Homo sapiens: one gene and its partners. The protein of the gene in region 3 interacts with the protein of the main gene of each other region in a pairwise test. Each region holds a gene or a part of one and is shown on either strand. Other genes may lie near its edges. The genes, in order: TRIM69, KCTD17 and ALB.

Evidence for each region.
Region 1: the proteins of ALB (region 3) and TRIM69 interact in binary tests that used the Homo sapiens proteins (3 or more experiments, as listed by UniProt).
Region 2: the proteins of ALB (region 3) and KCTD17 interact in binary tests that used the Homo sapiens proteins (3 or more experiments, as listed by UniProt).

Annotation. Positions count from the first base shown.
Region 1 is NC_000015.10:44,734,674-44,738,273, reverse strand, and holds the start of TRIM69 (E3 ubiquitin-protein ligase TRIM69), read right to left. Parts: upstream 1,747-3,600; 5' UTR 1,570-1,746; coding exon 1,564-1,569; intron 1-1,563.
Region 2 is NC_000022.11:37,050,001-37,053,825, forward strand, and holds the start of KCTD17 (BTB/POZ domain-containing protein KCTD17), read left to right. Parts: upstream 1-1,741; 5' UTR 1,742-1,760; coding exon 1,761-1,949; intron 1,950-3,099; coding exon 3,100-3,208; intron 3,209-3,825. UniProt on the Homo sapiens protein: Substrate-adapter for CUL3-RING ubiquitin ligase complexes which mediates the ubiquitination and subsequent proteasomal degradation of TCHP, a protein involved in ciliogenesis down-regulation.
Region 3 is NC_000004.12:73,414,165-73,417,989, reverse strand, and holds part of ALB (albumin preproprotein), read right to left. Parts: intron 2,956-3,825; coding exon 2,823-2,955; intron 1,735-2,822; coding exon 1,637-1,734; intron 460-1,636; coding exon 321-459; intron 1-320. UniProt on the Homo sapiens protein: Binds water, Ca(2+), Na(+), K(+), fatty acids, hormones, bilirubin and drugs. Its main function is the regulation of the colloidal osmotic pressure of blood. Major zinc transporter in plasma, typically binds about 80% of all plasma zinc.

The DNA of each region.
Region 1 (3,600 bases), on a different chromosome or scaffold from region 3:
CATGGTGAGACCTCATCTCTACTAAAAAAAAAAATAATAATACAAAAATTAGCCAGGCGTGGTGGTGCGTCCCTGCAGTCCCAGCTATTTGGGATGCTGAGGCATGAGAATCACTTGAACCCTGGAAGCGGAGGTTGCAGTGAGCTGAGATGGTGCCACTGCACTCCAGCCTGAGCAAGAGAGTGAGACTCTGTCCTAAAAAAAAAAAAAAAAAAAAAAGAAAGAAAGAAAGTATGTATCTTCCTCCTTCAGTTCACTGTGCACATTCTCAAAGAGCAGAGAAAAGGCAAAGAGCTATGAAGTCCATGGAAGCTTGCATAAGAAATCCTTAATTTTTACCAGAGATTTTTTTTTCCTGAGAAGTTTTGTGTTGTAAATTTTTGAAATCATAGTTAAGATATCTAAGGAGAGTTCATTTGTTGCTTTTCAACCTTTATTCCTTCAAAGTAATTTTTAAACTTTGATGGGCAGTTTTTATGAAGAATTAACTTTGAGAGCAGAAAAATACAGTTCATCCACAGAGACAAACTATATAGCACAGCCAGCTTAAACCTAAGAGCAAGACACACTCCTGCTTCACGAGTCAAGCCATTTGCACATAAGAAGGCAAGATTCTGAACTTTCTGACTTCTTGGAGCTTCCCAGAGTTGAAAGAAATTTTAAGCCATTTAATTCACTCCTTTCCAACCTCTGCCTGAACATCTGAAGTAATGGGAAACTCACTATCACACAAACAATTTTTTTACTATTATGGAAAAGTGTCTATTTTCACTGACTTGGCCTTAAAGTAATAAGAATATAGTAGGTTTAGGCAATAGTGTTTATTTTTGCCCTAGAAATTATAAACAAAATGCTTATAGCCCTGTTTGCTTCAATAGCTAAGCACAGAGATGAGTAGCAGCAAACCTAAAGGTCCTATGATAGAGGAAATTAGAAACTGATCTTAATGATTAATATAATGAAATTAAACTTTATAAGAAGTGGAAACTAGTGGAAATGGATGATAACTCAGGATTCAAGGGCCCCTGAAAAACCCTTAGTGAGTTTTTCAAGCTTTCATGTAGTAAATAACCATTTTCTTTTGTTTGACAATCAGGAAAACACTAAGTTCAGAAGAACATAACTTCCTTTATTTTAGCTCTGAAGAGGTCTTAAAGGAAGAATTCAATTAAAAATGTTTACTATCTAAGTATCAACTCTGCCTTAAATATAAAATAATCAAATGTGAAGGTATTGTAAGCAAACCAAGTTATACATAATAATTTTTAAATCTAAAATAAAATGATTACATTGATAATGAAAGTAAATTGTATATAGTATATAGTTTATTTTTTCTCAAAATGTTTTGGTGGATTTCATTACTTTCCTACCAGCTTCTCTAGTATAAATTATCAGTTATTCCAAGGCTTGGAGAGAGTATAGTAGCTACCAGCTGTCACAAGTTAAATACTTCCCTTCATGAATTTCCTTTTGTGCTCCTAAATCCATATCCTCTTCTATGATCCTGTTTTCCACACTATTCCTAGAAGCCCTGCTAAGTTAAAAAAAAAAAGGGTCACTCACCTCCATGAAGCTTCAGCCCACCAAGGGGCAGAGGCAGGCACTTGAATCAGAGCTCAGCAGGCCCAGGATGGCTGCAGACTGGGAGTCAGGGACCTTTTAGTTTTCAAGGAATGGGCTCAGAGCATGATGGAAGAAAGAAAAGTTCAGGAGCTGGAGAGAAGCAGCAAGGCCAGAGTGAGGTCTGGCAGATTCCGTGACAGTTTGTCAGTTAACTTTGATCATCATTTGCTTAAGAGAAAGAGAAACCCTCATTAGAATACCCTACCTGCCCAACTTTTCTTTTGTAGGAGACAAGGGCAGCTCATTTAGATTCGAGTTAGTGGTCTAATCTTAAGGTTCATAGCTCCCCATTTCTGGACTAAGGATGCTCTATGAAAGAGGAAATACACGTCAGCAGCAGCCTATATTAAGCCTAACTCATGAAAAATAACCACCTCACCCCTGTTCATGATCCCATCACACCATCAAGACACCAGCTGAGTGGCTTTAATAGAGAGCTAGTTCACCTCTCATATTCCAATGAAGCAGCCCTGATTTTATCTCTGAGACAGTAACACAGGCCTGGGAAACACCAGGCCCTAAGAAAGCAGGATGAAAAAAGCTTCATTTCATACAGCTTTCTTCAGCAGTTTTAGCTCGCAGAGAGATGTACCAACACTGTGCTCCTGAGTGACTTATAAAGAGCCACCACAGAGCCAAACAGTTTTTCTTACAGTAGTTCCTCTAACTCAATATGATTTCTTGCACGTCTAGCTCCTGCCTAGCTGTCCAGACTTAATGACCACAGCTCTTTCCCCAGTGTTTGGGATCGCCCAAATATGTCACGCTTCTGCAGCTTTGTATATGTTGTCCCTTCGGATGGGAGTTTCCCTTCCCCCACACCCCCGTCATTATCTCTTTACTAAACTCTTCCCTAACCACCCCCTCATCCCCAAACCAAGCTTTACCCACTTCCCTGTCTCTTGTAGAAGATATTTTGCTGGCTCTATACCAGAGGTTACCAACCTCAGCCCTATTGATATTTTGGGCCTGCTAAGTCTTACGTTAGAGGGGCTGTCCTGTGAATTTTAGGATATTTAGCAGTGTCCCTGGCGTTTACACACTAGATGCCTGTAGCCACCCCCCCCCCACCAAACCCAGTCATAACAAAAATGTCTCCAGTCATTGCCAAATGTCTCCTGGGGGCAGGGGTTGGAATCACTCCCCAGTTGAGAAACACAGCTTTACTCCCTTCCTTCCTTCCTTCCTTCCTTCCTTCCTTCCTTCCTTCTTTCCTTCCTTCCTTCCTTCCTTCCTTCTTTCCTCTTTCTTTTTTTCTTTCTCTTTCTTTCTTTCTCTCTCTTTCTGTTTTCTTTCTCCCTTTCTTTCTCTCTCTGTTTCTTTCTCTTTCTTCCTTTCTTTTTCCTCTTTCTTTCTCTCTTGCTCTCTTTCTTTCTTTCTCCCTTTCTTTCTCTTTCTCTTTCTTTCCTTCTTTTCTTTTCTTTTTTCTTTTCTTTCTGACAGGGTCTCACTATGTTGCCTAGGCTGATCTCAAATTTCTGAGCTCAAGCTGTCCTCCCACCTCAGCCTCACAAAGTGCTAGGATTACAGGTGTGAGCAACACCACGCCTGGCCTAGTTTTACACATTTCTATAGCACCCTAGATCTTTGTACACGTGGCTTTAACAGAGTGTATTCTAATTGTTTGATTGCATGTCTGCCCCTCCACTAAGTTGTGAACAAACCACAGGATAGGTAGTACTGTATCTTGCTCACCTTGGCAATACATGGCATTTGTTAGATCAAAACCTTTGTCAGATAAATGTCTATGAAATGCTGGTGATCACTTAGTCAAAAAAGTAATTTTGTTTCATCTTGATTGTTTTTGTTGTTGGCTAAAACATTTGACAATGCTTAGTATAGCTGATTTTACTAAAGCCAGCGCCTGCACATTTTTGAACCTTTAGCCTAGGGGTAAGAGTACTGGCCTAGAAGATGGAAGCCTTGTCTCTCACCACCAGAGCACTGAATAGCCTTAGCTAAGACATTTAACTCCTA
Region 2 (3,825 bases), on a different chromosome or scaffold from region 3:
CACTTTGGGAGGCCAAAGTAGGAGGATCACTTGAGCTCAGGAGTTCAAAACCAGCCTGGCCAACGTGGTGAAACCCTATCTCTACTAAAAATACAAAAATTAGCCAGGCGTGGTGGTGCATGCCTGTCATCCCAGCTACTCAGGAGGCTGAGGCATGAGAATTGCTTGAACCCAGAAGGCAGAGGTTGCAGTGAGCTGAGATGGTGCCACTGCACTCCAGTCTGGGTGAGAGAGTGAGACTGTATCTCAAAAAAGAAAAAGAGAGAGAGAGAGAGAGAGAGAGAGAGAGAGAGAGAGATAGGGGTCTCACTATGCTGTCCAGGCTGGTCTTGAACTTCTATGCTCAAGCGAGCCTTGGCCTCCCAAAGTGCTGGGATTACAGGTGTGAGCCACCGCACCCAGCCTACGCTAGATGTTTATAGACATTTCATAACTTAATCTTCACAGCAATGCTCTGGGGTCACAACTGTTGTAAATCCCATTTGGCAAGAGAGAAAGCCAATCTCAGAGAGGAAGTTGCTCAGGACACACCTAGTGAATTTTAAGTAGCAGGATTCCAGTACACCTTTGATCCACTCCCTGCCAAGGAGAAAAGCTTTATGCAGAAAGCAGGGCATTGGGTGGTAACAGGGAAACTTCTCCCAGCACAGGGCCAGGCTGCCCAGTGTTCGGGCCAGCTGCGTGTGACATTGGATCAGTGAGAGGAGCCCCAGACCTCTCCCCCATAGGCCAGGACCAGGACTGAAACCAGTAAGGAGAGGAAGCTAAGGAGACAGCTTCCTCGTCAGCCCTTGTCCCTCCCTGGTCCCGGACCACATGAGGAACTGCTCCCTTCCCCCATCCTGAGGTCCACAGAATGACGGTTCCCCTCCGAGTTAACTGGGGAATAACTCAGAAAGCCACCCGCAGAACCAATCCCTCCTCCTTCTTAGGGAGGACGTGGAAAAACTGAGAAAGGCCAAAAGCCAGAATGGAAACTCAGTTCTCCTGACTCGGATCCAGGGCGTGCTCTACTCTTCCTCCTTAGAAGTCTTTCCCAAGGATCCCTGACATTCCATGGTCAGGGAGCAGGAAAGAGACCTTGGTGGGTACTCACTCACCAGCAATGTGAGTAGGGCGGTCACTTCGCTTCTGTGGCTTCATCTGTAAAATGGGTATAGCCCAAAATACCAGACTCACAGGGCTGCTGAGAGCTTAAATTCATAACACATATACACAAAGTGTCTGGCATACAGGTGCTCAGCCAACCTCAAGTCCAGCTATGTCGTTCTCCAAGAACTCAGGTGAGGGAAAGAACCCACTCCCACCCACCCCGCCCCCACCCCTATACACACAAAGGGCAAATGAAAAAATATGACGAAACACATGCGGGTCAATGCTATGGGGATTCCTGGAGGGGAAAGTTTCTTCCCTTATCAGCTGTTGGACGACGGAGACGGCACAAAGGAAAAACAAGAATGCTCGGACCCATGGGATGACTGCAGATTTGGGGAAGCCCTCATTCTTTTCCCAGAGGCCGGGAGTTCGACCTTCCCCATACACAGTGATTTGGCCAGAGGGCATCTTCACCACCCCAGACTGCGGGCCTGCGGGGAAGGGCGAAGCGGGGCGGGACCGGGGGCGGGAGCAGCGCGGGGCGGGACCCTACCCGCGGCCCACGCGGAGCCAGGAGGCGCGGACTACAGCTCCCGGCCTGCCCCGCGTGCGGTCCCCGCCCGCCCCCAGCGCCCGGGAGGAGGATGCAGACGCCGCGGCCGGCGATGAGGATGGAGGCCGGGGAGGCAGCGCCGCCGGCGGGGGCGGGCGGCCGCGCCGCAGGCGGCTGGGGCAAGTGGGTGCGGCTCAACGTGGGGGGCACGGTGTTCCTGACCACCCGGCAGACGCTGTGCCGCGAGCAGAAGTCCTTCCTCAGCCGCCTGTGCCAGGGGGAAGAGCTGCAGTCGGACCGGGTGAGGCCCCCGGGGTGGGCGGCGAGCGGGCGGTGGGTCCTCCGCTCGCCCGACGCGGGGCTGTCGGGCCTGGCTCGCCCGCCAGGCTGGGGACCCGGCCGGGTTCATTTCCGAGGAACTGGAGGCGGGAAGAAGCGGCAGGAGGAGGGGAGGGGGAGGTGGGTCTGGTAGTGAGGGATGTACCCATTGCCGTGGCAACGGGACGACGCAGGCCGCGGCCATTAGAAGCTCTCCAGCCGCCCCGGATCGGGGCCTCTCCTTCTCCTTTGGGGCTGTGGACAGGGAGAGACCTGGGACCTTTCCTCCCTCCCAAAGGGGACTCCTGCTCTGGGGAAGGAGTCGACGAGGCTACTTCTCCCGCTCTTTGGGATGTGGGTGGCGGAGGGGTGCAGGGAGCTAGCTGGATGGAGGAGCCCTGGGGCGCCTTCTGAGCGGGCTGAATCTAGAAGGAGCGTTGGCCCAGCGGGCACTATTTCTGAGCACCCACCCTGACTCTGCTGCACACTGCCTGCCGCGACCTTGAGTCGGACCCTTCCCTGCACTGCGCTCAGCCTCCTTCCTCATCTGTAACACGAAGGGCTGGTCTGAAGATGACCTCTAAGGTCTCCTGTCCCCCATCCGTGACCCTCCGATGCTGTGGCCTTTGGCAAGTCGCCTCACCTCTCAATGTCTCCGATCTCTCTGTAGAGTCGCATGGAAGCCCACCCTGCCTCCCTGCCCGCCCGAGTGTCCAGTGAGATAGTGACTCCTTTGGAAACTTGTAAACATCCCCTGAAAGCCTAGGGACCTGGGGGCGACAGTGGGGCTGGCTTCAGGGGACAGCCTCTCAGAGGGACATTCTTCGAGCCCTGTGCTGGGCCAGTTGCCACTCAGACATCCTCTCACCGGATGCTCACAGCAAACCCTGATTAGGGGGAGAGGAGTGAGTTTCAAAGAGGCCAAATCATTAGCCTAAGGTCACACATTCAGGAAGAGTCAGAAGCAGGGCTTGAACTCAGGTCCATCTGACCCCAGTGCCTTTTTGCTACTTTGTGCCTGCTCCATCCAGGGAAGAGCTCTCCCTCCACTCTCCTTCCCTCCCTGTGCGTGTGCGGGGTTGGCTGGGGAGAAGCCTCACTCTTCTCTCACCGAGCATCCCTCACCTCCATAGGATGAGACCGGGGCCTACCTCATTGACCGTGACCCCACCTACTTCGGGCCCATCCTGAACTTCCTCCGGCATGGCAAGCTGGTGCTGGACAAGGACATGGCTGAGGAGGGTGAGTTGGTCCAGGGGGCTGGCCTGGACCTTATGCAGCCTGCCAGGGCCCTCTGTGGAGGCCCCAAGCCATTTGGACAACCAGGACGGCCATCTGCCTGCTTGGTTGTTTCCTGCCTCTTCCCAGTCGGACGGGGCTGATTCCCAAGCATCTGCCTGTGCCGAGCCTGGGGCTCTGCCAAGCGGACGGGCTCAAGCTTTCCCTGGGTACTGTCAGGGAGGTGAAGAGACACATGTGCAGGGGATAGAGGAAGTCAGCGAGGCCCTGTGGCCTCTGCTGTGGGCTGTGACGCCCTTTCTCTCTGGCCTCCTAGGAAGCCAGGTGTGGACGGTCACATCCGGAGGCTGGGGTGACAGGAATGCAGTGTTGACAGGCATGGGGAGAGCTCTGTCTCTCTTTCTCTGGCTGATCCAGTATCTCAAATTCTGCCTGGTGAGGGCTTGTAAGTGGGTGGAGCGGGTGACTGTTCACTAAGTCTGGCAGCCTGTGCGGCACAGTGCTGGCTGTGGGTGGAGGCAGGAGAGGGGGGAGTCTGCTTCCCAGTGGGGCTTTGGTTATCCCCAGGCCTAGGTGGCCGAGGCCCTGGATATGCCCATATCCGGGCCTAACAAACAGTG
Region 3 (3,825 bases):
GTAGTCCCAGCTACTTGGGAGGCTGAGGCAGGAGAATGGCTTGAACCTGGGAGGCGGAGGTTGCAGTGAGCCGAGATGGCACCACTGCACTCCAGCCTGGACAACAAAGCGAGACTCCGTCTCAAAAAAAAAAAAAAAATTATCATCCTCGGGGCCTTGACTGCCAATATCACACATACACACACGTGCATGCACACACACATGCACACAAACATGCACACACACACATTACTTCCTTCTGCTTATGAAAGCTAGCATTATCAATATCTAAAGGTAAAATTTTTTCATTATTAATTTATTATATTTTTTTAAAGACTCACATAGTCTTCTGCACAGGGCATTCTTTTTGCTTCAGGATGTTTACAACATTTGCTGCCCACTTTTCCTAGGTTTCTTGAGACCTCTACAAGAGTTGGAGTTGACACTTGGGGTACTTTCTTGGTGTAACGAACTAATAGCCTGAAAAAAAGAAGTCATGTGTTTTCAGCAAGGCAAGAAACTGTCTAACATAGTAGATAAAACAGAGAACACTTGGCCGGAATCAACTAAGATGTTGCTATGTTCCATTCATCATATTATCTCCATCTGCAGAGTAGTGGGTTAGTGGAGGGTAGAAAACATTCTCCTGAACAACTAGTTAAACTTGGCTTTGAGTTCCACCTGTACCACTTGCATAATCTTGGGAAAGTGAGTTGCCTAATTCAGTGACATTAATAAATTTATTAATTTCTTCTTTCAATAAAACCTGGAGAGAGCTTCATATGTATCAGCATATGCTAAACTTGAAAGATACAAGTAGAAAATGGAAGGAAATATATCTGACTCAATAGGGATAGTTCAAGGGTTAAATTAAAAGTAGTAAAGTATTATAATTAATCTGACATGGTACCTAATATATAATAATCATGTATTAAGAATGCCAGTCACCATTAAAAGTCAATGTATGACTTTAATCTACTCGAGGAAAGAAACTATGTCTTGTTCACTGTTATTATCTCTAAAATCCATAATCAGAAGAGCACCATGTGTATGAGCCACACAATAAATATCTACTGTATAATATGTCTCTTCTTGTTTTTAACCTTCATAGATAAGACTCTATTGAATTGGGACATTAGTCCAGCAAGCCATTCTGTCTCTGTCTCTTCTATGGAGGGAAAGGTTTAACCATCAAAGACTAGGTGCATCTCCCAAACAACCTGAATTTAATATTCAAATATGTATCTAAATTCATTTGTTACATTTTTGTGTTCAGCTTACATATTACTTTTTGAGCGACATCTATTCAAGGCCTACTACTTGCTGCTCTACAAAATATTGCCATGCTCTATTTGCCCATTAACTATTTCTTAACCTTCAAGGGACATGCTCAGTTCTGATATACCAAGATTTGGTATTTACCCTCCCAGCCTACATACTTCCAATCTTAAGAGAACAATTTTTAGACTACATTCAAATATAGACCTCTCCACCCCATCAACTATTTTATCTCTCCTCTCCTATCTTTCTTGACAAAGAGTGATTAGAAATATGCAATGTATTTTCATTCTTAAAAGTTCTATGCTAGGTGGCTCATATATTAAGTCTTAAATAATTACAAATTGATAAAAAAAATCAGTCAATAAAAATTACTTACGCATTCTGGAATTTGTACTCTCCAAGCTGCTCAAAAAGCTCACAATTTTGTTTGATTAAATTCTGAGGCTCTTCCACAAGAGGTTTAAATTCATCGAACTGAAACATAAAAGAATTGTGTTAATAGTATTATGCCTCAGGATCAGATGCAGGTTGTTTTTCACCCCTCTGGTCAGAATGATATCCTTTCTTCTTCCTACTCAAAGCCACATGAATAGATGAATATCAATGCCGCTCTGTCACAATACATTCGAACTATTTATTTGGTGAGCTTGCATCATGTAAGTGGTTAAGAATATTCAGGCTCTGGAGTTCAATGACCAGTATTTGAGCCAAGTCATGTAACTCATTCTTCAGTTGTGCAATTTTACTTACCATCTCCACATTTCAGAATCCTTATCCCTAAAATAGGGGCAAAGATGGCACTCATCTCATAGAGCTGCTCTGTAAACCAGGTAAGCTAATGAAATTAAACAGTGCCTTGCATATAATAAAAGTTTAATAAATGATGGCTATGATTGTACATATTATTATTATTAGTTCACCTTTCCAGTTAGATTCCAGGCTCTCCAAAATGAGAGATTTTACGTTGGTCATTGTTTGTGCATGGTGCCTGGCATACAGTAGCTTCTTGAAAGCAGGAAAAATGAGTTTTCTCTGATTCTGAATAGTTCAGAAACCATTACATATGCTAGTGGGAACCCTAAAAATCCTCCAGAACAGATTTCCTCTCCTAACTTAATTTCTTGTAAAACTATTCCTAAACATCCTCAAAAAGATTTGAAAATATTCTAAAGGGATAGGTTCTATAATTTGCCATAAGATACTAATTCTAGTACTTGATTAATCCTGGAATCAGGTTAACTCACTTTACATCTAAGTTAAATATCTTCTAATTAACATTTAAATTTAATTTTTTTTTGTTCTCAGGATTGTGAAAAAGAGAAAAAAAGATCAAAATTTTTTAGAGATTGCTCTATTCAGATCTTTCTATTCTAACTAGTCTAAATTTTGTTAATCATTCTAAGGCTACTTTTTCTTTCATGTTTAAGATTCCAGAATTGAAACCATCTCAAGAAAAGATCTAAATTGCACTGTATATCATTTTACATTCTTGCATTATTTTTCTTTCTCATTATTGGAATCATCAGTCAAAGAACTACATTTTTTTCCAACAATAAACCTACCACTTTGGCATAGCATTCATGAGGATCTGCAGCGGCACAGCACTTCTCTAGAGTGGTTTCATATGTCTTGGCAAGTCTCAGCAGCAGCACGACAGAGTAATCAGGATGCCTTCTTGCATATTCATACAAAAACCTAATTAAGATGAAAATAAAATAGACTTTGTTGGACAAATGAGCACAAAAAATATCACAAAGCTAATCTCAAAAGTAACTCATATTCCAAAAGTCTTAATTTGACTAAACCCCATGCAGTAAAGCTTAGTAGCTAAGGACTTGGGGTCCAGAGTTAAAGTTACCAAGGCTCAATTCCTAGCTCTGCTACTTATATCACTGCATCACCTTAGGCAACTTATTTAAATGATCAGAGCCTTAGTCTCCTTCTCGGTAGAATGGAAATAATAATAGTATCTGTCGGCTGGGCACAGTGGCTCATGCCTGTAATCCCAGCACTTTAGGAGGCTGAGGCAGGCATATCACCAGAGGTCAGGAGTTTGAGACCAGTCTGACCAACATGGTGAAACCCCATCTCTACTAAAAATACAAAATTAGCCAGGCATGGTGGTGCATGCCTGTAATCCCAGGAGGCTGAGGCAGGAGAATCGCTTGAACCTGGGAGGCGGAGGTTGTGGTGAGCCGAGATGGCACCATTGCACTCCAGCCTGGGCAACAAGAGTAAAACTCTGTCTCAAAAAATAAATAGTATCTGTCTCGGAAGGTGGATTATGAGAACTATATGACATAATCTACACAAAGCACACACTGCTTGGCACATATGAAGTCTTTGATGAATGATACTTGTTATTTTTATTAACATTTTGTTTGATTTAAACTACATCTCAAAAGGATTCTGATAAATAGATGGGCAGAGATATGTTCTTAAAATATTCTCTTTCTTCTCTGTATGAGTGAAATCTTGTAGGGTACATAATTTTAGGAAATATTATTTAGTGCATTATCATAATCCAACAACAAAAATGCAGTTTATCACCACAACTTCTGACAA